4 linked regions of the Homo sapiens genome follow. The protein of the gene in region 1 binds, or shares a complex with, the protein of each later gene. Each region holds a gene or a part of one and is shown in the gene's direction. Other genes may lie near its edges. The genes, in order: RAD9A, RHNO1, RAD1 and HUS1.

Region 1 (7,034 bases):
ATTCATTTTTTGAGACAGAATCTCACTCTGTTGCCCAGGCTGGAGTGCAGTGGCGCGATCTTGGCTCACTGCAACCTCCACCTCCCAGGTTCTAGCGATTCTCCTGCCTCAGCCTCCTGAGTAGCTGGGATTACAGGCACGTGCCACCATGCCTGGCTAATTTTTGTATTATTAGTAGAGATGGGGTTTCACCATGTCGGCCAGGCTGGTCTTAAACTCCTGGCCTCAGGTGATCCACTTGCCCCGGCCTCCCAAAGTGCTGGGATTACAGGCGTGAGCCATAGCGCTCGGCCTACTTTTTTTTTTTTTTTTTTTTTTTGAGAAAGGGTCTGGCTCTCTTACCCAGGCTGCAGTGCAGTGGCGCTATCTCAGCTCACTGCAATCTCCACCTCCTGGGCTCAAGTGATCCACCAGCCTTGGTCTCCCACAGTGCTGGGATTAAGCATGAGCCGCCGCGCCCGGCTGGTTTACACATTTTTAAATGTAACACCTATTTATTCATTATTTACTGAGTGCCAGACCCTGTGTGAGGTACATACAGCAACAAACAAAACAGACATGGATGCTGGGTGTGGTGGCTCACGCCTGTAATCCTAGCACTTTGGGAGGCTAAGGCAGGAGGATCGCCTGAGCCCAGGAGTTCAACTCCAGCCTGGGCAACAGAAGGAGACCTTGTCTCTAACAAACATTTAAAAAATTAGCTGGCTGTAGTGGCATGCGCCAGTAGCCCTAGTTACTCGGGAGGTTGAGGTGGAAGGATCGCTTGAGCCTGGGAAGTTGAGGCTGCAGTGATCTATGATCGTGCCACTACACTCCAGCCTGGGTGACAAAGCAAGAACCCATCTTAACAAACAAAACAAAACAGAACAAACAAAACAAAGCCAAGGCCGGGTGCAGTGGCTCACGCCTGTAATCCCAGCACTTTGGAAGGCTGAGACGGGCAGATCAGTTGAGGTCAGGAGTTTGAGACCAGCCTGGCCAACATGGCAAAACCCCATCTCTAATAAAAATACAAGAATTAGCCGGGCGTGGTGGCACACACCTGTATTCCCAGGTACTTGGGAGGCTGAGGCACAAGAATTGCTTGAACCCCAGAGGCGGAGGTTACAGTGAGCCGAGATCGCGCCACTGCCCTCCAGCCTGGGCGACAGAGCAAGACTCTGTCTTCAGAAAAAACAAAAAACCAAAAACCAGACATGGTTCCTGCCCTTGTGAGGCAGACACACTAGTGAGGAAGACAGATGTTAAACAGGCAAACACACGCATGAAATAACGTGATAAGTGCTGTGGCTAAAACAGGGTCTAGCTAGAGTGTAATGGGATGCTGGTGGGGGCAGAAAAGACGGCACTGAGCCTGGAGGAAGAGAAGCACCGCCACGTTAGAAGGGGTAAGACGATGCCAAGTGGTGGGGACAGCTAAGGATGTGCTAAAATCCCCAGGTGGAAAAGGAAGTGGAGGGTTCAGGGAGCCCACAGGGTTGGCATGGCTGTGCAGGTGATCAAGGGGAGGCCACAGGTGGAGAAATGGGTGGCGGCGGCTCCTGCAGGTTCAGGGCAGAGTTTGGATTTTATGGCAACCACTGGAGTGTGCAAACACGGGAGAGGCATGACACAATGGACATTTTAGGAGGGTCACTTTGCTGCTGTATGGAGAGTGGCCTGGAGGGGGCAGGGTGGAGGCAGGAGACCACTGAGAGCTGTTACAGTCATCCAGGTGAGAGGATGGTGGCCTAGGCCTTGGAGATGGAAGAGGAGGGCAAAGTTGCCACCTGTTAAGTTGCCACCTGTTTGGGAAGCAGAGTGGTCAGGACTTAACTGAAAGACTGTGTAGGGGTGAGGGCGAGCATGAGGTCAAGGATGACTCCAGCATACTGAGCCGGATGCCCAGGGACAGGGGCACTATTTCCATGGATCCCCCGGGAAGGGGAAGGGAAGAGTAACCTCCTCCCCCAAGGCTCCACGGAAGGGGCAAGGGCTGGTGACGAGGGGAGCAGAAGGGAAGGAGAGGGAGAAACAAAGTGTATGCATGTATCCAAATGTGTACAATTATTATGTATCAATTCAACTCATTTGAAAGTGGGTCTGGAGAGCAAGGGTGGCAGAGATAAATATATCTTCTGCACTACCACAGGACCTGAGGGGCAAGGCACGGGCAGGCCCTGCAGGAATACAGGGATGCCCTGGGCCCTTCCAAGAACTACCAGAGCCTTGGTACTGTGGGGAGAGTAGGGGTCAGTGAGTTTCTCCAGGACTCCCTTACATTTTACACACGTGGACCCGGAAGCCCAGGGGAAGGGGAATACCTTCCAGCTGATGCATCCCCACCTGGCACACAGTCTGGTTTTTTTTTTTGAGATGGAGTCTCACTCTGTTGCCAGGCTAGAGTGCAGTGGCGCGATCTCGGCTCACTGCAACCTCCGCCTCCGGGTTCAAGCAATTCTCCTGCCTCAGCCTCCAGAGTAGCTGGGACTACAGGCGCGTGACAACATGCCCGGCTACTTTTTGTACTTTTAGTAGAGACGGGGTTTCACCATGTTGGCCAGAATGGTCTGGATCTCTTGACCTCGTGATCCGCCCGCCTCGGCCTCCCAAAGTGGTAGGATTACAGGCGTAAGCCACCGTACCCGGCCAGTCTGGGGTCTTTTAAAAATACAGACCCGGGGCTGGGCGCGGTGGCCCATGCCTGTAATCCCAGCACTTTGGGAGACCGAGGCGGGCGGATCACTTGAGGTCAGGAGTTCGAGACCAGCCTGGCCAACATGGTGAAACCCGTCTCTACTAAAAGTACAAAAATTAGCCAGGCGTTGTGGCAGGCGCCTGTAATCCCAGCTACTTGGGAGGCTGAAGCAGGAGAATCGCTTGAACCTGGGAGGCGTGATCGTGCCACTGTACTCCAGCCTGGGCGACAGAGCGAGGCTCTATCTCAAAACAAACAAACAAAAAAACCCCACACACACACACAAAAAACAAAAAACAGGCCGGTGCAGTAGCTCACTCCACTTTGAGAGGCCAAGGCGGAAAGACAGCTTGAACCCCACAGTTGAGACCGGCCTGGGCAACATGGCAAGACTCCGTCTCTACCCAAAAAAAAAAAAAAAAAAAAAGGGCCGGGCGTGGTGGGTGTGCCTGTGGTCCCAGATACTCAGGAGACTGAGATGGGAGGATCCCTTGAGCCCAGGAGTTCCAGGCGGCAGTGAGCCGTGTTCGCGCCACTGCACTCCAGCCTGGGTGACAGAGCAAGAATATGTCTCAAAAAACAAACAAACAAAAAAAGGCACATAACCACGATCTACCCTCGTAAAACGTTTCCAGAGCGTCCCAGCGGTGCCCCTCATCATCTGGCGGCCCCTACGCCTCTCTGAGACTCACAGACCTACTCCCCTCTCCAGGGGGCGGAGCCCACACCGCTGAGCATTTACTCTTGTTCTTCCCTCTGCCAGGGGCACCGTTCTACCCCTTTCTGCCTGGAGAAACTGCCGTTTTTCCTTAAAGGATCCTCGAAGCCGGAAGGAGCAGCCACCTCCCACTCCCGGCTGCTGCAAGCAAGCTGCTTTGACTTCTTTCTAGAGTTGGGGATTGCTGCTGGAGTCCGAGTCTCAGGCCCAGAGTGGGTGCGATGGTCTTGCTTGCACCCTGTATCCCCCGGCAGACGCCCGGGAACTCTACTAAGTGGGTGACCCCAGAGAGCTCGCCCCCACACTCCGACTCCGAGTCCAGCACTCGGTCCACTGCACAGGGACCTCGCGCCCCACAGCTGCGTCCTCTCTGACCTTCGCAATCCGGTGCGCGGCCCGCGGAACGCCCCGATCTCCAGGGGCACGGAAGGCCGAGGCGTGCCGGGGGAGCCAGGAGCAGCTGGCTGGCGGGCGCCGCGGGCCTCCCCGGTCACGTGACACCCCGGACAACGTGCGCCGTCACGTGACGGCAGAGCCTGTGAGCGTTTTTCTCACGTGACGGAGGCGCCTGCACGTGGACCAATGGGGAGGCGGGGGCGGGGCCGGCAGGGGCGGTGCGCGGGAAGGGACCCCGGACCCGGAGGTCGCGGAGAGCTGGGCAGTGTTGGCCGCTGGCGGAGCGCTGGGGCAGCATGAAGTGCCTGGTCACGGGCGGCAACGTGAAGGGTGAGTGCAGGTCGGCCTGGCAGCGGCGGTGCAGCAGCCGCGGAGCCGCCAGCCTAACCCCCTTCCGCTCTTCTCCCCGCAGTGCTCGGCAAGGCCGTCCACTCCCTGTCCCGCATCGGGGACGAGCTCTACCTGGAACCCTTGGAGGACGGGGTGAGGGGCTAGGGTGTGGGGGGCGGGTGGGACTCCAGCCGGGAGCGGGTAACCCGGACTAGAGTCTCGCCCCCACTAGGCGGGATGACCGCTGGCAGATTTGTCGGCAAAGTTTCAGTTTCTTAGTCTGGCGGCTGTCATCTTCCCAGGCCGGTGTGTGAATTGAGGAAAGCTGTCCTGCGAGCTCCCAGGGGGTGACGTGCACTTAGAGAAACTCGGGGAAGGCCTGGGTGTGCGACCCCTCCTCTGCGGCAGCAGCGCCGGGGCCGACTCTGAAGGCTTCCATGGGGAAAGGAGGGTTTTTCAGCAGGTGGTGGCGGAGCGGGAGGACGATAGGGCAAGTGTGTGAGCAGAAGCAGCCAGAGGGCTGGGTCTGTGGCTGCCCCCTGACCACGTCCCTCTCCCTGCTCTTCGTGGCCCAGCTCTCCCTCCGGACGGTGAACTCCTCCCGCTCTGCCTATGCCTGCTTTCTCTTTGCCCCGCTCTTCTTCCAGCAATACCAGGCAGCCACCCCTGGTCAGGACCTGCTGCGCTGTAAGATCCTGATGAAGGTGAGGCCCTTCCCTCAGCAGTGGCACTACTCCACCCCAGGAATCTCCACCAGCTGTGCCTCTGCCCTGGGGTACTCAGTAGATGCTAAGTGGGGAGAGAGACACGTGCAAGCCCAATCCATGCAAAACACAGGGAGGGCCATGGTAAAAGCATCACAGCGGGGACCTGAGAGGGTGGTGACGCTCAAGTTCGTCAAGAAAGGTAAGCACGTCTTTTGGCCGGGCGCGGTGGCTCACGCCTGTAATCCCAGCACTTTGGGAGGCCGAGGCAGGCGGATCACGAGGTCAGGAGTTCGAGACCAGCCTGGCCAACATGGCGAAACCCCGTCTCTACTAAAAATACAAAAATTAGCTGGGCGTGGTGGCACGCGCCTGTAATCCCAGCTACTCGGGAGGCTGAGGCAGGAGAATTGCTTGAATCCGGGAGGTGGAGGTTGCAGTGAGCTGAGATCGCACCACTGCACTCCAGCCTGGGTGACAGAGCGAGACTCCATCTCAAAAAAAAAAAAAAAAAAGGTAAGCAGGTCTTTCAAGGCATTCCAAGCATAAGGAAGAGCATGAATGAGGCCTAGAAGGATGCCAGTGCCCGAGGTGACGTGGGAGCCCTTTTCCCAGAGTTACATGCTGGGCCCATGATGGGTGTGGGCCTGCATGGGACAGGAGAGCTTGTTGCAGAGATGTGATGCTAGGCTGAGGTGTCTTATCCCATGCAGTCTTTCCTGTCTGTCTTCCGCTCACTGGCGATGCTGGAGAAGACGGTGGAAAAATGCTGCATCTCCCTGAATGGCCGGAGCAGCCGCCTGGTGGTCCAGCTGCATTGCAAGTTCGGTGAGTGGGCAGCCGGCCAGCCAAGGGGTGCCTCAGCAGGGAGGTCGGCGAGGCCCACTGAGACCCTATCGCCCATCCAGGGGTGCGGAAGACTCACAACCTGTCCTTCCAGGACTGTGAGTCCCTGCAGGCCGTCTTCGACCCAGCCTCGTGCCCCCACATGCTCCGCGCCCCAGCACGGTGAGCACACCCCTGCCCTCAGCTCAGCCCCGGGTCTCTCTCTTCCTTCTTTGGGGCCCCAAGGGGTTGATTTTAGAAGGTACCTCTTTCATTTTCCCTACAGAGTTTCTGTGAACCTCAAAGACATCCCATGGCCCGCTATGTGCTCAGGTCCTTACCTGGCTCTTTAAAGGCAGACGGTGGCATGGAGGAGGGGCAGGCGCCTCCTTGCTCCATTCTCCTTACTGTTAGGAGCCTGCATTCTCCATCCCAAAGGTCTGACTTGACTTTCTGGCTGCTCAAACCCATTCCAACTCCTCCTCTAGGGAGCACATTTCTGGCCTGCCACCAAATCTCTTGTCTGGCTTGAGTAACCTTGAAGGTCTGCCCATAACCTGTGGCTCAGAGGCTCAGACCCCTTCTCCGGCCTGGGCATCCTTCCAGAGGTGTTCCCCATTCAACGGCAGCCTCTTTTCCTGACTGCCCAGGATCGAGGAGTCCCCAAGGCCAGGGCAGGAGGCTGGAGGGAGGCTGAATAATCAGCTATGGGGTGGAGCTGTTCTGGGCAGTCCGAGCACTGGGGGCTGTCTGGGGCCAGGGAAATGGGGACTCCAGTTGAAGCAAACGTCCCTGGCGAGGACCAGCTCAGAGAGGAGTGGGCTCTCCCCCTGCTCCATGCTGGTCACTGCTTGCATTCAAGTGGCCCAAGGTCCTGCTCATTTCTCAGGGTGACTGAAGATCCCTTTGGGTCCTGACATCTGTTTCCCCAGGTTCTTTTGAGCCAGCACTGCTCAGAGCTCTTTTGGGTAGTGAGAGACGGGGGCCAATTCCTTGGTCTGCATTTAGGGTGGTGTCTTTTTTTTTTTTTTTTGAGACAGAGTTTCGCTCTTGTTGCCCAGGCAATGGCACGATCTCGGCTCACCACAACCTCCGCCTCCCGATAAAAGTGATTCTCCTGCCTCAGCCTCCCGAGTAGCTGGGATTACAGGCATGCGCCACCATGCCCGGCTAATTTTTTGTATTTTTAGTAGAGACAGGGTTTCTCCATGTTGGTCAGGCTGGTCTTGAACTCCCGACCTCAGGTGATCTGCCCGTCTCAGCCTCCCAAAGTACTGGGATTACAGGCGTCAGCCACCACACTCAGTCTCTTTTTTTAAAAATGAGCAATTGTTTCTCTCGTTTTGTTTTGAGATAGAGTCTCGCTCTGTCACCCAGGCTGGAG
Region 2 (7,018 bases), on another chromosome or scaffold:
AGGATCTCTCGAGCCCAAGAGTTTGAGGCTGCAGTGAGCTATGATCGTGTCACTGTACTCCAGCCTGGGCAACAGAACAGGACCCCATCTCTAAAAATAATTTTAAAAATTAAAATAAAAATGTTCAGGCTGGGCGTGGTGGCTCACGCCTGTAATCCCAGCACTTTGGGAGGCCGAGGTGGGCAGATCACCTGAGGTCAGGAGTTCAAGACCAGTCTGGCCAACGTGGTGAAACCCCATCTCTACTAAAAAATACTATAATTAGCTGGGCGTGGTGAGGGCGCCTGTAATCCCAGCTACTTGGGAGAGTGAGGCAGGAGAATCGCTTGGACCTAGGAGGAGGTTGCAGTGAGCCGAGATCACGCTACTGCACTCCAGCCTGGGCAACAGAGTGAGACTTTGTCTCAAAACAAACAAACAAAATTTCCACTTTATTTATTTATTTTGAGATAGGGTCTGTCTGTCACCTAGGCTAGAGTGCAGTGGCACGATCATAGCTCACCATATCTTCAAATTCCCAGGCTCAAGTGATCCTCCCACCTCAGCCTCCCAAGTAGCTGGGACTACAGGTACATGCCAACATGCCAAGCTAATTATTCTTTTAAATTTGTAGTAGAGACGAGGTCTCTCTATGTTGCCCAGGCTGGTCTTGAACTCCTGGCCTCAAGCAGTCCTCCCATCTCAGCCTCCTAAAGTTCTGGGATTACAGGCGTGAGCTACTGCACCTAGCTTGGAGAAGTTTTAAGATAATCTTTGTGGAGAATGAGTTGATCAAGGAAACAGGATTGCTGAGCAACGTACCCATTTGAAGCTGATGACTTTCAGCAAGTCATGAATTTCAAAACTATAGCCATTGCTACCACTGTTATCTTTTCACTGGATTTCTGTGGTAGCTTTTTGTTTGTTTGTTTTCTAGACTGAATCTCGCTCTGTTGCCCAGGCTGGAGTGCAGTGGCGTGATCTCGGCTCACTGCAACCTCCGCCTCCCGGGTTCAAGCGATTCTCCTGTCTCAGCCTCCTGAGTAGCAGGGATTATAGGTGTGTGCCATGACGCCTGGCTAATTTTTGTATTTTTAGTAGAGATGGGGTTTCACCATGTTGGGCAGGCTGGTCTTGAACTCCTGACTTCAAGTAATCTGCCCGCCTCAGCTCCCTAAACTGCTGGTATTAAGGGCATGAGCCACTGCGCCCGGCCTCTCTATACTTTTTATTCCTTTCCGACTAGAATGTAAGCACCACAAGGGCAGAGGTTTTATGTTATTCTCTGGTATATATTTTCAGCACCTGGAACAGTGCCTAGCACACAGTAGGCACTCAGTAAATATTTCTCAAGTGAATGAATGAGTGAATGAACAAATGGATATATATATTTTTTGTGTTTTCTATAAGATGTTAGTTCCTTAAGAATAGAAACTTTGGCTGGACATGGTGGCTCACGCCTGTAATCCCAGCACTTTGGGAGGCCGAGGCGGGTGGATCACGAGGTCAGGAGTTCGAGACCAGCCTGGTCAACATAGCGAAACCCCGTCTCTACTAAAAATACAAAAATTAGCTAGGCATGGTGGCGTGCGCCTGTAGTCCCAGCAACTCATGAAGCTGAGGCAGGAGAATCGCTTGAACCCAGGAGGTAGAGGTTGTGGTGAGCCAAGATCGCGCCACTGTACTCTAGCCTGCGTAACAGAGCAAGACTCCATCAAAAAAAAAAAAAAGAAAGAAAAAAAGAGAAACTGTGTCCTTTTTTTTCTTAACCTGTATCTCTACTGCCTAGTCATATAAGTCAAAGCATATTATTTTTTGTTGTTGATTGAATGGATCACAAATGCATAGAACCAACCTGCTCTGTTGTGTCTTTCCAGCATGCTCAGCTGCAACTCTCATTTACCTCTCTACCTATTGCATTCAACCTTGTGTCCCACCATTCCACCAAAGAAGCCCTTATTAAAGTTGATCTGGGCCAGGCGTGGTGGCTCATGCCTGTAATCCCAACACTTTGGGTGGGCGAGGCAGAAGGATTGCTTGAGCCTAGGAGTTCCAGACTAGTCTGGGCAACAAAGCAAGACCCTGTCTCTACAATAAATAAATAAATAAATAAATAAATAAATAAATAAAACTTTAAAAAAAGATGCTCTAGGCACCTTGTGAGAAAAGTCGGGTTGGAGATGGGGGTGGAAAAAGGAAGCAGGGAACTCAGTTAGAAGGCTACCAGAGGGGCCAGGCATGGTGGCTCACGCTTGTAACCCCAGCACTTTGGGAGGCCGAGGCAGGCAGATCAGTTGAGGTCTCAACTGAGTTCAAGACCAGCCTGGCCAAAATGGTGAAACCTCATCTCTACTTAAAATATAAAAATTAGCCAAGCATTGTGGCAGGTGACTGTAATCTAACCTACTGGGGAGGCTGAGGGTGGAGAATTTCTTGAACTCGGGAGGTGGCGGTTGCAGTGAGCCAAGATCAAGCCACTGCACTCCAGCCTGGACGAAAGAGTGAGACTCCGTCTCAAAAGATAAAAGTATAGAGAAAAATCAAACAGGTCAAGGGGTTGAGTTGACTGTTATTTTAGACATAGTTATTAGGGAAGGCCTATCTAAAGAACTGCTAGTAATCCCAGTATTTTGGAAGGCTAAGGAGGGAAGGATTGGTTGAGCCCAGGAATTTGAGACCAGCCTAGGCAACACAGTGAGACCTCATCTCTATAAAAAATGTTTCAAAAAAAGTTAACCAGGTGCAGTGTGCTTGCTTGTAGTTCCAGCTACTCAGGAAGCTGATGTGGGAGGATTGCTTGGGCTTTAGAGGTTGAGGCTGCAATGATCCATGATCACACCACTGCACTCCAGCCTAGGTGACAGAGCAAGGCCCTGTCTCAAAAAAAAAAAAAAAAAAACACATAGAAAACCTGGGGTGTGGTGGCTCACACCTGTAATTCCAGCACTTTGGGAGGCTGAGGTGCGCAGATAGCTTGAGCTCAGGAATTCAAGACTAGCCTGGGCAATACAACGAAACCCTATTTCTACAAAAATACGAAAATTAGCCAGCGCTGTGGCACGAGCTGTAGTCCCAGCTACTTGGGAGGCTGAGGTGGGAGGATCACCTGAGCCTGGGAGGTCAAGGCTGTGGTGAGCCATGATCATGCTACTGTACTCTAGCCTAGGCAACAGATGAGACCCTATCTCGAAAAAAAGAAAAAAAAGAAAATGGGAACACTGGCTGGCTGGATATTTGTTAATGTTAAAGAATTTATATATTTGTTTAGTCATATTAATGGGAAGGATAGAATATATATATATATATATATATATATATATATATATTTTTTTTTTTTTTTTTTTTTTTGAGACGGAGTTTCACTCTTGTTGCCCAGGCTGGAGTGCAATGGCGTGATCTCTGCTCACCGCAACCTCCGCCTCCCGGGTTCAAGCGATTCTCCTGCCTCAGCCTCCGAGTAGCTGGGATTACAGGCATGTGCCACCACGCCCAGCTAATTTTGTATTTTTCGTAGGGACAGGGTTTCTCCACGTTGGTCAGGCTGGTCTCGAACTCCCGACCTCAGGTGATCCACCCGCCTCGGCCTTCTAAAGTGCTGGGATTACAGGCATGAGCCACCGCGCCCGGCCAAATATATTTTCTTCCAAATAATCCAGGGATAGAAGAAGTGGCTAGGGGTGTAGATGGGTCAGGATTAGCCTAGCCGACAGTTATTGGAGCTGGATAATTGGTACACAGGGTCCATTACATTATTCAGTCTACTTTAGTATATATTTGACATTATCTGGAGTGAAAAATTTTTTAAAAGCCAGGTGGGATCAAATTCTTCTGCTTAAAGTCCAAACTCATATGGTGTCACCTGTTTTTTTTTATTTGTTTGTTTGTTTGTTTTGGAGACGAGTCTCGCTTTGTCTCCCAGGCTGGAGTGCAGTGGTGCAATCTCGGCTCATTGTAACCTCCACCTCCCAGGTTCAAGCGATTCTCCTGCCTCAGTCTCCCATGTAGTTCGGATTACAGGCATGCACCACCACACCCGGCTAATCTTTTTTGTTTGTTTGTTTGTTTGAGACAGAGTCTAGCTCTGCTGCCCAGGCTGGAGTGCAGTTGCGCAATCTCAGCTCATTGCAACCTCCATCTCCTGGGTTCAAGTGATCCTCAGCCTCCTGAGTAGCTGGGACTACAGGCATGTGCCACCACGCCCAGCTAGTTTTTGTATTTTTAGTAGAGGTGGGATTTTGCCATGTTGGCCAGGCTGGCCTTGAACTCCTGGCCTAAAGTGATCAGCCTGCCTCAGCCTCCCAAAGTGCTGGGATTAGAGGCGTGAGCCACCACTCCCAGCCTAACTTTTGTATTTTTAGTAGAGACGAGGTTTCACCATGTTGGCCAGCCTGGTCTCAAACTCCTGACCTCAGGTGATCCGCCTGCCTCAGCCTCCCAAAGTGCTGGGATTACAGGCGTAAGCCCCCTCACCCAGCCATGTCACCTATTTTTTTTTTTAACCTCAGCCTGACACCATGTTTATCCTGAGTTCTTGCCATTTATCTTCTCATACTGTGTCCAGATACATTGAATTTGTAATTCCCAGAATTCACAATACTCCGTCTCGTCTCCATGCCTTTGTGTACACTGTTCCTCAGGCTGGAGTGCCCTCCTTGCTTTTTTGTTTCTTCTATGCCTTTCATACCTAGGTCAGGTATCTCCCTTTCCAGAAAGCCTCCTTTGGAATGAATGGAACCATACTGTATTCTCATACAGTGTTGTAAATGTCTGTTTCCCTTTGCTAGACTTTCAGCTCCTCGAAACAGGGATGACCTCTGTATCACTACAAGTGCTTTGCACTCAGTTAATGATTGTTGAATAAATGGTTATTCATCTTTAAATTCCCAGCACCCAGCATGACACTTAGCACATACTCAATAAATGTTCGTTAGATGAATGTTGAATATGAATATTGTGTTTTGCTTGGTGGTTGTAGGTATAGGAGGCTGTGCTCCCCAAAGCCTTGAAGTTTATGGTAGAATTGGCTGGCAGAGGATCAGGAAGAACTGGGGAATCATCTGAATTATTTGCTCCCAGCTTTTGTTTCTTCTCTACAGGCATGGGTTGGAATTGGAGCCTATCCCCCAACCCGAAGGCTAACAGCATCATGTGGTTACTAACTGTTCCTCATTCACCGGTTGATGCCTCCCAGAAAAAAACGCCGCCAGCCTTCCCAGAAAGCCCCGCTGCTGTTCCACCAACAACCACTGGAGGGCCCCAAACACAGCTGTGCATCTACACAGCTTCCCATCACTCACACTCGACAGGTGCCCAGCAAGCCCATTGACCACAGCACCATCACTTCCTGGGTAGGCCCATGGGATTACTATTTGACATTTTTTTTTTTTTTTTTTTTTTTTTTTTTTTGAGACGGAGTCTCGCTCTATCGCCCAGGCTGGAGCACAGTGGCGCGATCTTGGCTCACTGCAAGCTCCGCCTCCTGGGTTCACACCATTCTCCTGCCTCAGCCTCCCGAGGAGCTGGAACTACAGGCACCCGCCACCACGCCCGGCTAATTTTTTTGTATTTTCAGTAGAGATGGGGTTTCACCGTGTTAGCCAGGATGGTCTCTATCTCCTGACCTCGTGATCCGCCCGCCTCGGCCTCCCAAAATGCTGGGATTATAGGCGTGAACCACCGCGCCCGGCCTACTTTGACTTTTACTCTGTTAGGTTTTCCAGAATGCTGACTCTTCTGCCCGGCCTACTTTGACTTTTACTCTGTTAGGTTTTCCAGAATGCTGACTCTTCTGCCCCTTGAACCAGGGACTCCAAAGAATAAGATTCATGGGGGCGGGGGCAAGGAGTTAATGTATTCTGTCTGTGGCCAGCCATCTTCCCTGGTACATCTTCTTTTCTCAGTTCAAACTGAGGAACGGGTTAGTTGGAACTGGAGTCTTTCTCTTCCCCTATTTTCCTCTGAAAGAGTTCATTGTAAAAGTTTTTTTACCCATTAGCTGGGTGAGAATGCCAGATAAATGGCAGAACAAGTTAAAAATGAGATTGTTCCCTCAACTTCATGTGAAAGGTGGAGTACTTGGCTAGATACTCTGTTTATTGTGTAATGGATTGAACCTTGAAAAATAAAACCCCATAAGAATAGCATATGTCATATTTTGACCGCTTAAAAGCCCTGGGAAGAGAGGCCGGGTGTGGTGGCTCATGTTTGTAATCCTAGAACTTTGGGAGGCCAAGGAAGGAGGATTGCTTGAGCCCAGGAGTTCGAGACCAGCCTGGGCAACATGGTGAAACCCCATCTTTACTAAAAATATTAATAGAAAAATTAGCTGGGCATGGTGGTGCGCACCTGTAGTCCCAGCTACTTGGGAGGCTAAGGTGGGCAGATCTCTTGAACCGGGAGGTCAAGGCTGTAGTGAGCCAAGATTGTGCTACTGCACTCCAGCCTGGGCAACAGTGTGAGACCCTGTCTCAAAAAAAAAAAAAAAAAAAAAATAGAAACCCTGGGAAGAGAATATAGCTACTATACAACAGGAAAGTAGTATAGTAAAAGGGCCAGACAAAAGCATAAGCTTGGCTTAGGAGTATTTAATAAATGTAACTTATTCAGGACTGCTTGGAAGAACCATAATACCTGCTACAGGATTGTGGAAGAAACCTAAACATCAGAATCCTGTGGATGAGAGTAGGAATGAACATTTATTGAATATTCATTATATGCCAGGTCCTCTGCTAGTTCTCACCCGCTATGCTTGGAGTTGGCTATTCATTAACTGAGGGCCTTCTTTGTTCCAGGCATTCTGCTAGGTGCTGGGAATCAAGAACAAGACCACTGGTCCCTACCCTCATGAAGTTTAAAGATAAATAAGTTATATCTAGACCAGGTGTTGTGGCTTACGCCTGTAATCCCAGCACTTTGGGAGGCTGAGGTGGGTGGATCACTTGAGGTCAGGAGTTTGAGACCAGTCTGGCCAACACGGTGAAACTCTGACTCTATTAAAAATATAAAAATTGGCTGGGTGCCGTGACTCATGCCTGTAATC
Region 3 (7,018 bases), on another chromosome or scaffold:
CTATTATTAATTATACATTTTCTAATACAGTGTTCTCCAGCTAGTTTTTCACAGAAGCATCTGTCATCTTCCATTCCTCACTGTGGCTCTCAATCCAGTAAGGAGAAGGAGTTTGAATATCCTGTCATATTCCTCCTTCCCTCTAGTGGTTTGCAGAGTTAAAATTTACACCACCATTAACAACCCTCTTTTTCTCTCAATTTGATTTTTAAATTCGAGGAAATATAAAGAATATCTCCCAGTTGGAAAAGTTGGAAGGATCCTTGTCATAGTGAGTACACTGACGTTACAGTACAGATGACAGCAATCCACTGTTACACACATTGAACCTTCAAGGAATAGCATACCCTGTTCTGCAGCAATTTAGTTACTTGCTGTGTTGATCCATATAGATTCTCTACCCTGAAATTGTACATATATAAAATCAACAAGCTATTTCTGAGGTGTGTATGACAACCTGAAAATGATTCCAAAGAATTATGTTACATTTTGTTCTGGTTCCCAATTTTCTTGTAGTTTTGGAATTCTCTACACACAACTGTCATCAGGGAAGATGTCATCCCTTTTTATGAGGAGATACATATATGTGAGAAATTGGGCGGAATAAATTATTCTTGAGAAATTTTATGTATCATTTCGAGGAGAAGCTGAACCCAGAACTATAAAGCTAAGGCCAAGTATGACTTCTTTCCATTGCAGGGACTTTAACTGCACTTCGAATGTGTTACCAAGGTTATGGTTACCCTTTGATGCTGTTCCTGGAAGAAGGAGGAGTGGTGACAGTCTGCAAAATCAATACACAGGAACCTGAGGAGACCCTGGACTTTGATTTCTGCAGCACCAATGTTATTAATAAAATTATTCTGCAGTCAGAGGGGCTCCGTGAAGCATTTTCTGAATTGGATATGACGAGTGAAGTCCTACAAATTACCATGTCTCCTGACAAGCCTTATTTCAGGTACTTGAGAGCAGTGCAGTTATAGTTAATGTGGTCTGTACTCCATCTTCCCACTTAGACATTTGCTTAGGATGCAAAATTTTTATTATCCACATTTTTAGAGTTTTCACAACTTTAGACAGCTTGTACTCTTACCTCATAATTTTATGGATCAAGAAACTTAAGACCCAGGAAGATTAACTCACTATTTCATATTTAGGTGGTGGTGGCATCTAGATGAGAAGCCCAGTCCTCTAATTTATAAACTGGTGGTGTTTTCATTGTACTACTCCTTACTTTCATAGATCAGGTTACATCATGAGGAAAATTGGGTTTAAGTGTTTGGAAAGGGTGTTTGTATTATGGTATCTTTTTCAAGTTAGTTCAGGATGCAGAAGAAGATGTTTTCTACACGTGGCTCATTCATTCACTAAGTATCTGTTGATCACCTACCGTGTGCTTATTCATCTTATTAAGCATTGTGGGAAGAACAGCTTAAAACCAAGGTGAAGCCAAGAAAATGTGAAACAGCAAACCATTAAGTACCAAGATAGCACACACAGATACCTGGGAAATGCTGTATAAGGATTTAGGGAGGATTGCTCAAGGCTGGCTTCCCAAGGGAGGGCAGTTTTCAGCAGGAGTACAATGTCAAAAAAGCTGTTCTTGATAGTTTAACACAAGTCTCTTTTCAGGATTAGACTCAGAGATTCTAGCAATTTAGAGAGAGGATCTAAATATTCTCTTTTTGAAATATTTCAGAATATTAAAGCCCCTAAATACATATGGAATAAAAGGAATAAGGTATTCTTTTTGTAACTACTTTAGAAGAATTACAGGCCCGGCTGTAAAAGTGCTGTGGCAGACACCTGTAATCCCAGCACTTTGGGAGGCCGAAGTGGGCAGATCACTTGAGGTCAGGAGTTCAAGACCAGCCTGGCCAATGTGGTGAAACCCTGTCTCTACTAAAAATAGAAAAATTAGTTGGGCGTGGTGGCACGTGCCTATAATCCCAGCTACTTGGGAGGCTGAGGTGGGAGAATCACTTGAACCCAGGAAGTGGAGGTTGCGGTGAGCTGAGATTGCGCCACTGCACTCCAGCCTGGGTGACAGAGTGAGAATCTGTCTCAAAAAAAAAAAAAGAAAAGAAAAAGAATCACAGGCCCTTGTCATGACTTTGGGGAGTTAAAAATTTGGCTCAAGGTCTGAGAAAGTTAACCAAAATGGAAATTGGAAACCTTACTTTAGCAGTGGAATGAAGTAAAAAATTCAGGTACTTAAAACAGTATTTCAGGGGATCTCCTCAGTGATCTCTCTCAGCCTGGGTAACGAGATGGACCATGGTATCTTTCATCTCCAGGATGGGAAACAATTTGGTGGTAGGGAGGTAGGAGTTGAAATTTTTTCCTGGATATGTTAAATTTTAAGTACCTGCGACACTAGGGAGTGGCTGGATATGTAGTTATGGTGCTCAGGAGATCCATTTAGACTGGAAATTTAGATTTGGGAACCATCATCATGGCTGGGTATGGATGAGACGGGTCAGAGAGAGAGATTATATTAGAAGAAAGAAAAGATGGACCCCAGGAAAACCACACCTGGAAGATGGGAGGCAGAAATGGAGCTTAGGGAAAACCAACCTGGATCTTATCGCCATGCTCATATAATACTTAGCAACGTGCTAATCCTGCAGCAAATGTTCCAGGAGTTCTTGCAAATTAAATCAGCATGTTAACACTTATAAATTGTCTACAAATAACTTCTGGTATTACCAAGTGAGGAAAACCATGCAATAGCCTTAAGAGCAGTCTAAGATACAGAAAAGCTGTAATTCCTAGGTGTAGGATTGGGAACAGACCTAAGGGTTGCAGTAGACTTAGATCAAGGTCTTCCATGAGTCCTCAATTCTCTCGCCTGTTATATATTTCTGACTTAAGGATGAGGAAAAGTCATTTTCAGAGTAGGATTAGGGTAATGAAATTAAAGTGTCCCCTACCCTTTTCCTTTTACAATTGATTTTCTTCAAACCCATTGATTAGTTGTCCTGAACTCCAGTGGGAGCTTTATTATGGTACTTGTTATCGTGTGTTATAAGCATTTGTGTACATGTCTGTTTCACCCACTAGTATGAATTTCTTAAGGAAGTGTTTTCTTTATTTGGATCCTAATGTGGTTTATTTTTGGATGAATGAATAAATGAGGTAATCATTTTCTATAGGTTATCTACTTTTGGAAATGCAGGAAGTTCCCACCTTGACTATCCCAAAGATTCTGATTTGATGGAAGCATTTCATTGTAATCAGACCCAAGTCAACAGGTCAGTTCTTAATATAGAGGTTGTCATTGGTGATAAAGAGGAGGTTAAATACCAGATTTCTGTTAAATAAAAACACTTTCAATCTGTTAATTAAAATGCACAGCATTTTATAAAAATGAATAGTAGAGTGCTGGACTTACTAGGGGATGTAGGGTTCTAACAGTGAATGAATTTTAAAACAGAAAATATTAGCAAATTGGATAAGTACTTGATTTTATTCTTAGATTTGCTACTTTTTATCCTTTACTTGGGAGTTCTGAGCAGTGTTCACTGTGTTGATATAACAGCGTTTTATTTTTTCTTCTACAGATACAAGATTTCCTTACTGAAACCCTCTACAAAGGCATTAGTCCTATCTTGTAAGGTATCTATTCGGACAGATAACAGAGGCTTCCTTTCATTACAGTATATGATTAGAAATGAAGATGGACAAATATGTTTTGTGGAATATTACTGCTGCCCTGATGAAGAAGTTCCTGAATCTGAGTCTTGAGTATGACAATTCACTGATATTTATGTGTACATTTATGATAGATGAAGTTCTTATTCTGAGTACAGTACTCTTTGTCATTTCATATTGGATTTTCTATAGAGAAGAAGCACAATGGGGAAGATAGGAGCAAGGTCATGTACCCTAATAGTTACTATGTTTTGTAAATCCATTTTGTAGAGGGCATGTAAATAAATGTTTTCCTGTAGTCATAGATTATTCAGGACTGTCCTTTAGTTCTGTCTTTTGAACTCATGGGAATAATTGTGAGTCAGCGTAACATTTCAAGAGTCTAAAGGTGGCCGGGTGTGGTGGCTTTAATCCCAGCACTTTGGGAAGCCGAGGTGGGCGGATCACCTGAGGTCAGGAGTTCGAGACCAGCCTGACCAACGTGGAGAAACCCCATCTCTACTAAAAATACAAAAAATTAGCCGGACGTGGTGGCACATGCCTGTAATGCCAGCTACTCGGGAGGCTGAGGCAGGAGAATTGCTTGAACCCGGGAGGCGGAGGTTGTGGTGAGCTGAGATGACGCCATTGCACTCCAGCCTAGGCAATAAGAGCAAAACTCTGCCTCAAAAAAAAAAAAAAAAAAAGTCTAAAGGCTTAAAGTTTGATGCAGCTACCTGAAATGATCTTTTATTTATTTATTATTAGAAAAAGCAAAGGCATATGGGCATTGCTTATTAGTTTGAATTCTAGAGACTAGATCTTAAAGTAGTGGTTCTCAAAGTGTTGTGCCCGCACCAACATCAGAATGGCCTGCAAACTTGTAGCAAACTCTGGGGAGGAGGCCAGCATTCTGTATTTTAACAAGCTTCCCTCAGGAGATTCTGATGCCTGCTAAATTTTGGGAACCACTGTTTTAAAGGAAACTTTTTTTTTCTTTAATAGCATTTAATTGTATGAGATGATTGCTTTTACATGTGATTTCCTTGCAAATGTTCTGAAGTTGAGGCATCACCAAACAAGTCTGAACAATTCTTTATGTGATTTATTTTTAAAGTAGACCTTTTGAAGAGATCTATGAATGGGATATAAAGCAATTTTCAGTGTTACAGGTTTTCTTCTTCTTCTCAAAACTGTTTGCTGTAAGTAACTGCAATCAGTACTTACTACTTTCCATTTGCTTATGAGTTTCTTGACAAATCAAGGTGTAGAAAACCAGTTATTAAGTGATTTTGTACTTTCCTGGTAGTTGTCACTAAAATAATTTTTGTGGCATATAAATATATTTAATAAAATGCAAAAATTATCTTCCTGTCTAGTAGAAAAAATTACATGAGTAAAGTGAAGCTTCTGTCTTTGTTACTGTACCAGGTGACAACAGCTGAGTGTCCCTCCATGGACAGTCACTATTGGCCTTTTGAGTGAGACAGTTCTTTAGGATAAAAACCTGTCATCCCATTGCAGGATTCATTTAGCCTTTCTGGCCCTTACCCACTGATGCTAGTCATTGTGACCACCCCACCTCCCCCAAATAAAAGTGTGCCAAACTATTCATTGTTGAGAACCATTCAATTGTATTCACCAAAATTGGAGGATATATTGGAATGCCCTACCTTAATATAGGTCACATAGCATTAGAGAAAATTGGTTTGGAGAGTATTACAGCAAAGTGTGCTGCAAGGAGGCTACTCCAGCACAATGGCAGGCACTGCTTCCCAGGCATATGGACAATTCTGGGAGGTGGCCAGGGTCAGCACCTGATAACTAGTAAGTGTCTCAATCTCAGCATACAAAATTTAGCAGTGACTACAAAAGAAGTTGGAATTTTCTAAAATGTTTGTATTCAAGAAGGAAACAAATGAATTTACTAAATGTTGTCAGAGTATTTTTTGTTTAGATAACCACCAAGAACAGAACAAACCTAAAAGATACTTGGGAAAATATCTAATCAGTCAACATTCTAAGGACTGTTAAATGTGAAATAGCATAGTTATTTTTTGTCTTTTGTTACTAGTGTGAACAAAGAACGGCGCCTAACATATAATGGGCATTTAGTAACTCTGTTAGATGAAAGACTCTCCAATTTCAGATTTTCTTTTAGCATCTTATTAGTCACTACTTAATTCTGATGATTTAGCTCTAAATTTATTTTGATCTCAGTTTTTTTATTTTTATTTTTGGAGACAAGATCTTGCTCTGTTGCCCAGGCTGGAGTACAGTTGTAGGATTACAGTTCACTCCAGCCTCAATCTCCTAGGCTCAAGCAATCCTCCCATCTCAGCTTCCCAAATAGCTACGACTACAGGTGCATGCCTCCATGCCCTGCTAATTTTTGTATTTTTTGTAGAGATGGGGTTTTACTATGTTCCCTAGGCTAATCTTGAACTCCTGAGCTCAAGCAATCCACCCGCCTCGGCCTCCCAAAGGGCTGGGATTACAGGCGTGAGCTATCATGCCTGGCCTAATGTATTTTTTAAAAGTTGAATCTAAAAAGAATTTAAAACAAATATAAATCAGCTCAGTAAGGATGGATATTTTTGTACATTTAAAACTATTATTTTAGGCCGGGAGTGGTGGCTCACACCTGTAATCCCAGCATTTTGGGAAGCCGAGGCAGGGGGATCATCTGAGGTCAGGAAGTTCGAGATCAGCCTGGCCAACATGGTGAAACCCCTACCTCTACTAAAAATACAAAAATTAGCTGGGTGTGGTGGTGGGTGTCTGTAATCCCAGCTACTTGAGAGGCTGAGGCAAGAGAATCACTTGAAACTGGAAGGCGGGGGTTGCAGTGAGCCGAGATTGCACCATTGCACTCCAGCCTGGGTGACAGAGCAAGACTCCGTCTCAAAAACAAAAAAAATTAAAATAAAAATTATTGTTTTAGCTGCATGTCTTCAGCTATTTAGAATTCAAAGACTAATGAATTGTTTCTAAGTCACCCTAACATCAAGGTACTTATTTTATAAAGAATTTCCTCCTTATTTGTGTTCTAATTGACCCAGGAATTTTTACTTTAATAAAAGTTTAACTTTATTTCCTATGGAAAATCACTAGGGGGAGTGCTCCCTCAGGCAGAGCAGGCGACACTTTGGTGCCACTACAAATTGATGTGTAGTATATAGAAGAATACAGTCTTATATTTAAAGACTTTTAGTTCTGTCTTTTTGAAGTTTATCTCTCTTTCTAGTAAAATGGTGCTTACTGTGAATGGATAATCTTTTTTTTCATTTTTCATTTGTTGATTTCCCATTCGATGATGTAGTGCTTCCACCGAGAATTGATGAAATGCTTCAAAATAATAAAAGTATTTGTTAAATTCCACTTT
Region 4 (7,816 bases), on another chromosome or scaffold:
AGAAAGCAATTATAATATCAATAACCCAATAGAAAAATGGCCAGTAAACAGATCATCTAGAGACGCACATGAAAGATATTCAAGCTTATTTACTTAAGAAAAATGGCAAAAATTATACTGTACCATGTTTCACTGATGAAATTAGAAAGATCCAAAAGTTTGATAATGTTTTATTCCAAGGCTTTGGGGAAACAGGATCTCTCACACGTTGCTGGAAGAAATGCAAATAGGTATAACATTTATGGAGGGAACTTGGCCTATCTATAAAAATCGAGATGAATATATCCTTTGACTAAAAAACTTACCATGTGCAAAATGCCGTATATAAAATGTTATTCATCAGTAATATTTCCCAGGAGGAAATAAGGGGGTGCAGAAGGGTAGGGATGAACCTCTCCTTCCTTTGCCACTTTAGCTTTAGCTGGTAAATAAACATGCTCTGTAACCTCTTCTGTTACTTCACTATACTCTCCTTCCTTTTCCACTATGAAGCGTTCCTACCTCTCTGCCTGCCTTTGAGTCTCTGCTGAAATGCAAGTGATAATGGCTGACTCTGAATAAATAGGCTTTGCCTGTTCCATTTGGTTGGTCTTCATTTATTTCCACACTATCAATTGTTTTCCTGAAGGTCAAGTGTAAATAGAGCTGGTCCAGTCAGCAGGAGCATGTGGGTCACTGGACACTCAGCAATCCAGTGATGCAGATTCTCATCAAGAGTGTGAGGTAGGGCATGCCATGGCCAACATTGCCAATTCTATCTGTCCCCATCTTTAAAATGGGAATAATAGGCCGAGCATTGTGGCTCACACCTGTAATCCCAGCACTTTGGGAGGCTGAAGCAGGCAGCTCACCTGATGTCATGAGTTTGAGACCAGCCTGGCCAACACAGTGAAACCCCATCTCTACTAAAAATACAAAAAATGGTCTGGGTGTAGTGGCAGGTGCCTGTAATCCCAGCTACTCGGTAGACTGAGGCAAAAGAATCACTTGAACCCAGGACTCAGAGGTTGCAGTGAGTCGAGATTGCACCATTGCACTCCAGCTTGGGCAACAAGAGCAAGACTCCATCTAAAATAAAATAAAATAAAATAAAATGGGAATAATCATACTTATTTTACGTGTGTTTATATTATCTAAGTGATGATATCAGTGCAGAGTGCTATAAAATGAGAGCTATCTATCTCACCCTACTGATCAATAATATTTAAATAGTGCTTTAAAGGCATCCAATAAATGTTGATCACCCTCCTCTTGAGTAGGGGCTGGTCCCCTTCCTTAATCCCCATCACTCACCACCATGCCTGACACTTCTCATGTGCTCCACAAATCTTCATTTAGAAAAGTATCTATGGAATTTATTGAAGAATTTTTTTGACACCTAAAAGAGGAGAAGAGTCTTTGAAGAGCTGCTTAAGCAAAAACCCATCTCTTAGAACAAGTACAGTTGTCAAAAGACATTCACTCATGCCACCTCTAGGGTATGCTTTCCTTCATTTTACAGTTTTCTCATGTTAAAAAAAGAAGACAAATACTGCCTTTCAAATTTGATGCGTAACATGTGAGCTAGTCACGTTGTTTCCCTTGGGTAATTTTTCCAACATTAACTGCTAACAACAGGGCTGCAAATTGCTGTCTCTTCCCCCAGGGACTAGAGAAGATGAGTAAGTACCTGAAAGAGACTGGCCAAATACTTACCTAGACAGAGTTTACCATCTGCAGCTGTAGAGAGGTTATTTCCCTTACTTCCAACTATATGCATCCTGAATGACATTTTATTTGCACCACTGTTTATTTCAGTTTCTAAGACAAGATTAAGGCATTTACCTCCCCACTAAACAAACTTAATGAACAGCGTGAACACTGTTTCCCAAATCATTGTGTGACTGAATTACTAATCCCTGACATTTGGCAGTTCTTAAGTCAGAAGGCAATTTACTGTAGCTAGATGAGAACATGAATATACATTGCATTAGAAAACTCAGTGGTACATGGGGCTTCTAGAAATCTCTAGAGATCACATTCCTTGCCTCAAAATCATTTGGAAAGTAGAGAAGTAGTGTCAATATACTTAATTGTCAATTCTGAAGTTAATGAATTAATTTGCTAAACCTGTTTAAGAAAATTGCAAGAGCACATAAAAGATTCCTTTCTTCTTCCAAGAAAAGATAATTGCAGCTTTATTTTCTATTTCTTGAGTCAAATTCCTATATTATTTGGGCTTTTGTCCATGCAGAATGTATCATATCACATCTTCTTAGGAAGTTTAAAAAATTGCTTTATCAGTTTTTATGACATAAAATTAAGCAATTTACACTAAAGATCAAGATGTTACAAAACATTGTTTACAAAGTTTATTTAGATACATTCTTTAATTATATTCATTTATCTACTAGCAGCCACTTTATTTAATGTGATGCTCAACTCTTCAAAACTCATTCATGAGGAAATTAAAAAACAGGCTTTTTCCTGCAGATCATATGGGGCAAATAAAAAATGTTGGCATGGCCGGGCTCAGTGGCTCACGCTTGTAATCCCAGCACTTTGGGAGGCCGAGGCGGGCGGATCACGAGGTCAGGAGATCGAGACCATCCTGGCTAACACGGTGAAACCCCGTCTCTACTAAAAATACAAAAAATTAGCCGGGCGTGGTGGCGGGCGCCTGTAGTCCCAGCTACTCGGGAGGCTGAGGTAGGAGAATGGCGTGAACCCGGGAGGCGGAACTTGCAGTGAGCCGAGATTGCGCCACTGCACTCCAGCCTGGGCGACAGAGCGAGATTCCGTCTCCAAAAAAAAAAAGAGTTATGCCAACATTTTTTTTTTTTTTTGAGACGGAGTCTCGCTCTGTCGCCCAGGCTGGAGTGCAGTGGCAGACCTCTGTTCACTGAAATCTCCGCCTCCTGGGTTCAAGTGATTCTCCTGCCTCAGATTCCTGAGTAGTTGGGATTACAGGCACAAGCTATCACGCCGGGCTAATTTTTGTATTTTTAGTAGAGACGGGGTTTCATCATGTTGGCCAGGCTGATCTCAGACTCCTGACCTCAGATGATCCACCCGCCTCGGCCTCCCAGAATGCTGGGATTACAGGAGAGAGCCATCCTGCCCTGCCTGTTGGCATAACTTTGAAAGTGATCTATTAAGTTTGGTTTGGCAAACACTCGCATATGACAATGAAGATTAGAATTTTGCTTCATGTTATAGTCTTAAAATAGGCAAAAACTGCAATTTTTGTATTTTGCACCTTTTTATTATTATTACACTTTAAGTTCTAGGGTACATGTGCACAACGTGCAGATTTGTTACATAGGTATGCATGTGCCATGTTGGTGTGCTGCACCCATCAACTCATCATTTACATTAGGTATTTCTCCTAACGCTATCCCTCCCCCAGGCCTCCACCCCCCAACAGGCCCCAGTGTGTGATATTCCCCTCCCTGTGTCCATGTGTTCTCATTGTTCAACTCCCACTTATGAGTGAGAACATGCGGTGTTTGGTTTTCTGTCCTTGTGATATTTTGCTGAGAATGATGGTTTCCAGCTTCATCCATGTCCCTGCAAAGGACATGAACTCATCCTTTTTTATGGCTGCATAGTATTCCATGGTGTATATGTGCCACATTTTCCTTATCCAGTCTATTATTGATGGACATTTGGGATGGTTCCAAGTCTTTGCTATTGTGAATAGTGCCACAATAAACATATGTGTGCATGTGTCTTTGAAAATTATCTGGGCCTGGCGCGGTGGCTCACGCCTATAATCCCAGCACTTTGGGAGGCCGAGGTGGGCAGATCACCTGAGGTCAGGAGTTCGAGACCAGCCTGGCCAACATGGCGAAACCCCGTCTCTACTAATAATACAAAAATTAGCCGGGCATGGTAGCTTGTGCCTGTAATCCCAACTACTTGGGAAGCTGAGGCAGGAGAATCCCTCGAACCCGGGAGGTGGAGGTTGCAGTGGGCCAAGATCACGCCATTGCACTCCAGCCAGGGCGACAGAGCCAGACTCCGTCTCAAAATCATCATCATCATCATCTGCATTATCATTATCTTGATTCTATGTGTCAAGTTAAAGACAAGGTTCTAGTCTATTTGCAAAGGACATTAAAAATAACAATTGTTAACACAGATAATCTTTAGTCTTTGAAAAACCAAATTAGATACAATTGTTGCTTCATTTCCCCCTTTAAAATTTTTCCTTTAAAAAAAATCCTAATGACATTATTTATGCTAATAAGAATTTTATCGGATGTAATAAAGTTCGTCTTGAGGCAAACTGCAGAATTATCACTTAACGTCAGTGTTCTTTAAGCTTCCCGACTTTACCAACTAGCCAGTAATATGTTCAATTTTTTTAGAAGTCATTTGAAACAATTTTCAGAACCTTAATCCACCAAGATGCTTCAATACCAAAGTACCAGTACCGTCATCTGAGGCTGGAGGGTTTAAAGCTGCTCTACCTTAGGTATATTTAAGATAATATTGTTTAACCTTTATAAACGATTAATTTTATTTGGATATTTTAAAATAACACTTGAAATAGGTGTCACAAAATTCTTTCAAAACGTGAATTCTCAGAACAACCTCCCCGAATCTGGGGCTTGAAGCCTCCGCCTCACTAAAAGTAGATCCCACCATTACCCGGCAGCGCGGAGGCATACCCGGAGACTGGGACCCCCACCTCCCCCGGGGCGTGACCTGTGATCCTTGACCCGTGACCCCACCTCCTCTAGGGCGTGACCCCCTAGCCCCACCTCCTCCGGGGCGTGGCCCGGAGATAACCCTGGTAAGAGTCGCGTAGCCCGAGCCGGGCGGAACCACTGTTCGCGCTGCCGTGTTTCCGGGCGGGGACACTCAGGGCGCGACGCTTTTCTGTTACCCACAGAGGCCCGCCGCGGCTGCGCCATCCGCGGCCATGAAGTTTCGGGCCAAGATCGTGGACGGGGCCTGTCTGAACCACTTCACACGTGAGCAGGGAGGCCGGAGAGGAGCGAGGGAGGAACGGAAGGAAGCAGTGAGCGCGCGGTGGGGACCGCGCAGGAGGATCAGAACGGGGATGGGCGCCGGAAGGGGCCGCGGGAGGATGGGGCCGGGATGGGGGTGCTGGTGTAGGCCGCGGGAGGGTGGGGCCGGGAGGGCGCGGGGCGGGTCGGAGGGCACTTGTGGGGATGAAGGCGGCTTTCAAGGGACGTTTCTGAAACTTGATTCCGATCACGTGGCTTTAAAAAAAAGCGGCCACTGCTCCCATAGACGGCTTTATCAGGCATTGACATACCTTCAAGGCCCCATTCGTCCCTCCACCCTGACAGTGCCTAACCTTGCATTTAACTGTGTATTGCAGTACCTAGTAGTCAATAAATCCATGTTGAATGAATGAATGACTGGTAGGTGCCTGTTTTCTTATTTGAACACTGATGATGTGTGCTGTACATCTCCCCTAGTTTGTTGGGAGAATTGCGTGACATCAGGGGTATTAAAGTACTTTCCAGTGTGATACCAACGTTAAGTGGTTATTTTTCCACCGAGAAGTTGATGAACAAGAAATTCTGCAAAATAAGTTGGTCTCTAGGATACATAATGTGCATTTTAGTAATTCCTTATTTTAACCCCTGCTTTAGGAATCAGTAACATGATAGCCAAGCTTGCCAAAACCTGCACCCTCCGCATCAGCCCTGATAAGCTTAACTTCATCCTTTGTGACAAGCTGGCTAATGGAGGAGTGAGCATGTGGTGTGAGCTGGAACAGGTGAGCAAAAGCTTCTGAGAGGCCTGCACACTCTGCAGATTGTCACTGGAAAGATCACATATACCCTCCCTCATCCCTCATTTTTTTTCCCTTAGGAGAACTTCTTCAACGAATTTCAAATGGAGGGTGTCTCTGCAGAAAACAATGAGATTTATTTAGAGCTAACATCGGAAAACTTATCTCGAGCCTTGAAGACTGCCCAGAATGCCAGGGCTTTGAAAATCAAACTGACTAATAAACACTTTCCCTGCCTCACGGTCTCCGTGGAGCTGGTGAGTAGGAGAGTCAGGGTTTCTAACACAGAAGTCTTGGCCTCGAAGGAATAGACATAGTTAGCCTAGCCTTTTTAACAATAAATACTGTTGAAAGCTGTTTGGTTTATTTAAATTTAAAGATCTGGTCCATAACTATATTTTGCATTAGAGTCAGTTCCTCCTCATTTTAAAATTGTGTTGTTATCATATGCATTCAGCTAGAATGCTGCTTTTTCCAAGCCGTGAAACTTCCAGCCTCTCTGTTTCTTGTAGTGGTATTGTCACCTTGTCTAGAAATCATGGTTTCTCTATCCATTTTCACCTTTGACATGTTTTCTCCCCACTCCCACCCTGCCTCATCTGCTATAATAACCTTTAAATGGCCCCTCGTTCTTCAGTACACGTATGTTTTATATGCTACTGCCAGATGAATTTAGTGCACAGCTGTCCTCCAAACACACAAATACACAAACTCATGCGCATACATACAATCCAGAGTTGCTCTTCCTACTCATAGAATGAGGTTCGTATTTCCTTTTTTTTGAGACGGAGTCTCTCTATCACCCAGGCTGGAGTGCAGTGGCGCGATCTCGGCTCACTGCAACCTCCATCTCCCGGGTTCAAGCGATTCTCATGCCTCAGCCTCCTGAGTAGCTGGAATTACAGGCACCCACCACCACACCCAGCTAATTTTTGTATTTTTTTAGTAGAGTCGGGGTATCACCATATTGGCCAGGCTGGTCTCGAACTCCTGACGTCAAGTGATCCACCTACCTCGGCCTCCCAAAGTGCTGCGATTGTAGGCATGAGCCACGGCGCCCAGCCCAGCTTTTCTTCATAACTCTCAACTCTTTGCAGTCAGGCAGTTCTCAGAGCTAATTAGGGCATTTCATGTCACAGTATAAGTTTGGTATGTTTTTTCTATTGCTTAAGGAAAAGCAAGATAGTAACGTATAATACTTTTTGTCCAAAAGTGCAAGATATTTTGGTCTGTGAGTCTCATAGGAGCCCCTAGAAATAAATATAGTTTGCCTTTTAACTGTTAGAAACTGCAGCACTCTGAGTGTCCTATGCCCAAAGAATGGCCTTCTCTTGGTTGCGTCAACATAGCAGGCTTGCTTCTTTCTGCCTCACGGCTTTACATGTGCTGTTTCCCCAGCCTGAAACCCTGTCCCCTTGTTCTTGTCTTCCCATGGCTGCTGCTTCTCCTGCTTTTGGTGGTATCTGAAATGTCACCTCCTCAGTCTAAGGAAACTCCCCCACACTCACCCTGGTCTCTGTGGAGTGCTTTCTCACGGCTATAATGAGCATTTCATACAGTTTCATTTGTTTGCATTTTTATTGATCTGTTTGTTCCACTGGAACACTAAGGACCTTTTTGTCTTATCACCACACTTCCCAGTTCCTGGAAGTACCCAGAGTCTGTTCCATAAATATTGGCACCATCAATATTGGTCGAATGGCTTTTGAGTGAATAAACTGACAGCATTCCACTTAGATTTGGTATTTCAACTTTTTTGTCCCGGGTCTTCGGGTTTGTTTTGTTGTTGCTTAATATTAACAACATAAAAATATTTTTAAATTCTTTTCTTGGCAGTTATCTATGTCAAGCAGTAGCCGCATTGTGACCCATGACATCCCCATAAAGGTGATTCCTAGGAAATTGTGGAAGGACTTACAAGAACCGGTGGTCCCAGATCCTGATGTAGGTGATGCCTGCAGTCCTGCTGTACACCCCACATTAAATGGCATGACTTGAATTCTCTAGTTTTAGTTGTAGTCTTGCAGTATATTTTATTTTTAAAGGATACTTAACGAAAAC

Evidence for each region.
Region 2: the proteins of RAD9A (region 1) and RHNO1 are in contact, whole or in part, in a crystal structure (PDB 8WU8), measured with the Homo sapiens proteins. Residues at the interface, in NP_004575.1 of Homo sapiens: Val41 (codon at 4,712), Ser44 (codon at 4,721), Arg45 (codon at 4,724), Ser46 (codon at 4,727), Ala47 (codon at 4,730), Tyr48 (codon at 4,733), Glu130 (codon at 5,772), Leu132 (codon at 5,778), Gln133 (codon at 5,781), Ala134 (codon at 5,784), Val135 (codon at 5,787), Glu165, Tyr181, Glu183, Thr216, Phe217, Cys218, Gly244, Pro246, Val261, Leu262, Ala263, Thr264, Leu265, Ser266; in NP_001239428.1 of Homo sapiens: Thr88, Lys90, Phe91, Pro92, His93, Leu94, Thr95, Phe96, Glu97, Ser98.
Region 3: the proteins of RAD9A (region 1) and RAD1 are in contact, whole or in part, in a crystal structure (PDB 3GGR), measured with the Homo sapiens proteins. Residues at the interface, in NP_004575.1 of Homo sapiens: Leu76 (codon at 4,817), Ser82 (codon at 5,548), Val83 (codon at 5,551), Ser86 (codon at 5,560), Leu90 (codon at 5,572), Lys92 (codon at 5,578), Leu112 (codon at 5,638), Phe116 (codon at 5,650), Gly117 (codon at 5,653), Val118 (codon at 5,736), Arg119 (codon at 5,739), Lys120 (codon at 5,742), Thr121 (codon at 5,745), His122 (codon at 5,748), Asn123 (codon at 5,751), Leu124 (codon at 5,754); in NP_002844.1 of Homo sapiens: Glu165 (codon at 885), Ala166 (codon at 888), Ser168 (codon at 894), Glu169 (codon at 897), Asn195 (codon at 3,172), Ala196 (codon at 3,175), Gly197 (codon at 3,178), Ser198 (codon at 3,181), Ser199 (codon at 3,184), His200 (codon at 3,187), Leu201 (codon at 3,190), Asp202 (codon at 3,193), Tyr203 (codon at 3,196), Pro204 (codon at 3,199), Asp206 (codon at 3,205), Ser207 (codon at 3,208), Glu211 (codon at 3,220).
Region 4: the proteins of RAD9A (region 1) and HUS1 are in contact, whole or in part, in a crystal structure (PDB 3GGR), measured with the Homo sapiens proteins. Residues at the interface, in NP_004575.1 of Homo sapiens: Leu157, Pro158, Pro161, Val176, Ala186, Lys191, Ala192, Met193, Val194, Thr195, Glu196, Met197, Cys198, Leu199, Gly200, Asp203; in NP_004498.1 of Homo sapiens: Thr84 (codon at 5,905), Asn87 (codon at 5,914), Arg90 (codon at 5,923), Ala91 (codon at 5,926), Lys93 (codon at 5,932), Thr94 (codon at 5,935), Phe110 (codon at 5,983), Ser121 (codon at 7,595), Ser123 (codon at 7,601), Ser126 (codon at 7,610), Arg127 (codon at 7,613), Ile128 (codon at 7,616), Val129 (codon at 7,619), Thr130 (codon at 7,622), His131 (codon at 7,625), Asp132 (codon at 7,628), Ile133 (codon at 7,631), Pro134 (codon at 7,634), Ile135 (codon at 7,637).

The regions. Positions count from the first base shown.
Region 1 is NC_000011.10:67,387,958-67,394,991, forward strand, and holds the start of RAD9A (cell cycle checkpoint control protein RAD9A), read left to right. Parts: upstream 1-4,028; 5' UTR 4,029-4,087; coding exon 4,088-4,121; intron 4,122-4,203; coding exon 4,204-4,274; intron 4,275-4,284; exon of another isoform or gene 4,285-4,558; coding exon of another isoform or gene 4,559-4,696; coding exon 4,697-4,825; exon of another isoform or gene 4,826-5,532; coding exon of another isoform or gene 5,533-5,538; coding exon 5,539-5,653; intron 5,654-5,733; coding exon 5,734-5,833; intron 5,834-7,034. UniProt on the Homo sapiens protein: Component of the 9-1-1 cell-cycle checkpoint response complex that plays a major role in DNA repair. The 9-1-1 complex is recruited to DNA lesion upon damage by the RAD17-replication factor C (RFC) clamp loader complex.
Region 2 is NC_000012.12:2,880,208-2,887,225, forward strand, and holds part of RHNO1 (RAD9, HUS1, RAD1-interacting nuclear orphan protein 1), read left to right. Parts: intron 1-4,954; exon of another isoform or gene 4,955-5,075; 5' UTR 5,076-5,159; coding exon 5,160-5,327; intron 5,328-5,595; exon of another isoform or gene 5,596-5,690; intron 5,691-5,745; exon of another isoform or gene 5,746-6,119; intron 6,120-6,770; exon of another isoform or gene 6,771-6,904; intron 6,905-7,018. UniProt on the Homo sapiens protein: Involved in microhomology-mediated end-joining (MMEJ) DNA repair by promoting recruitment of polymerase theta (POLQ) to DNA damage sites during mitosis.
Region 3 is NC_000005.10:34,905,494-34,912,511, reverse strand, and holds part of RAD1 (cell cycle checkpoint protein RAD1), read left to right. Parts: intron 1-699; coding exon 700-958; intron 959-3,155; coding exon 3,156-3,254; intron 3,255-3,563; coding exon 3,564-3,747; 3' UTR 3,748-6,917; coding exon of another isoform or gene 6,918-6,981; 3' UTR 6,982-7,018. UniProt on the Homo sapiens protein: Component of the 9-1-1 cell-cycle checkpoint response complex that plays a major role in DNA repair. The 9-1-1 complex is recruited to DNA lesion upon damage by the RAD17-replication factor C (RFC) clamp loader complex.
Region 4 is NC_000007.14:47,976,613-47,984,428, reverse strand, and holds the start of HUS1 (checkpoint protein HUS1), read left to right. Parts: upstream 1-4,813; 5' UTR 4,814-4,909; coding exon 4,910-4,961; exon of another isoform or gene 4,962-5,019; intron 5,020-5,612; coding exon 5,613-5,740; intron 5,741-5,835; coding exon 5,836-6,012; intron 6,013-7,591; coding exon 7,592-7,699; intron 7,700-7,816. UniProt on the Homo sapiens protein: Component of the 9-1-1 cell-cycle checkpoint response complex that plays a major role in DNA repair. The 9-1-1 complex is recruited to DNA lesion upon damage by the RAD17-replication factor C (RFC) clamp loader complex.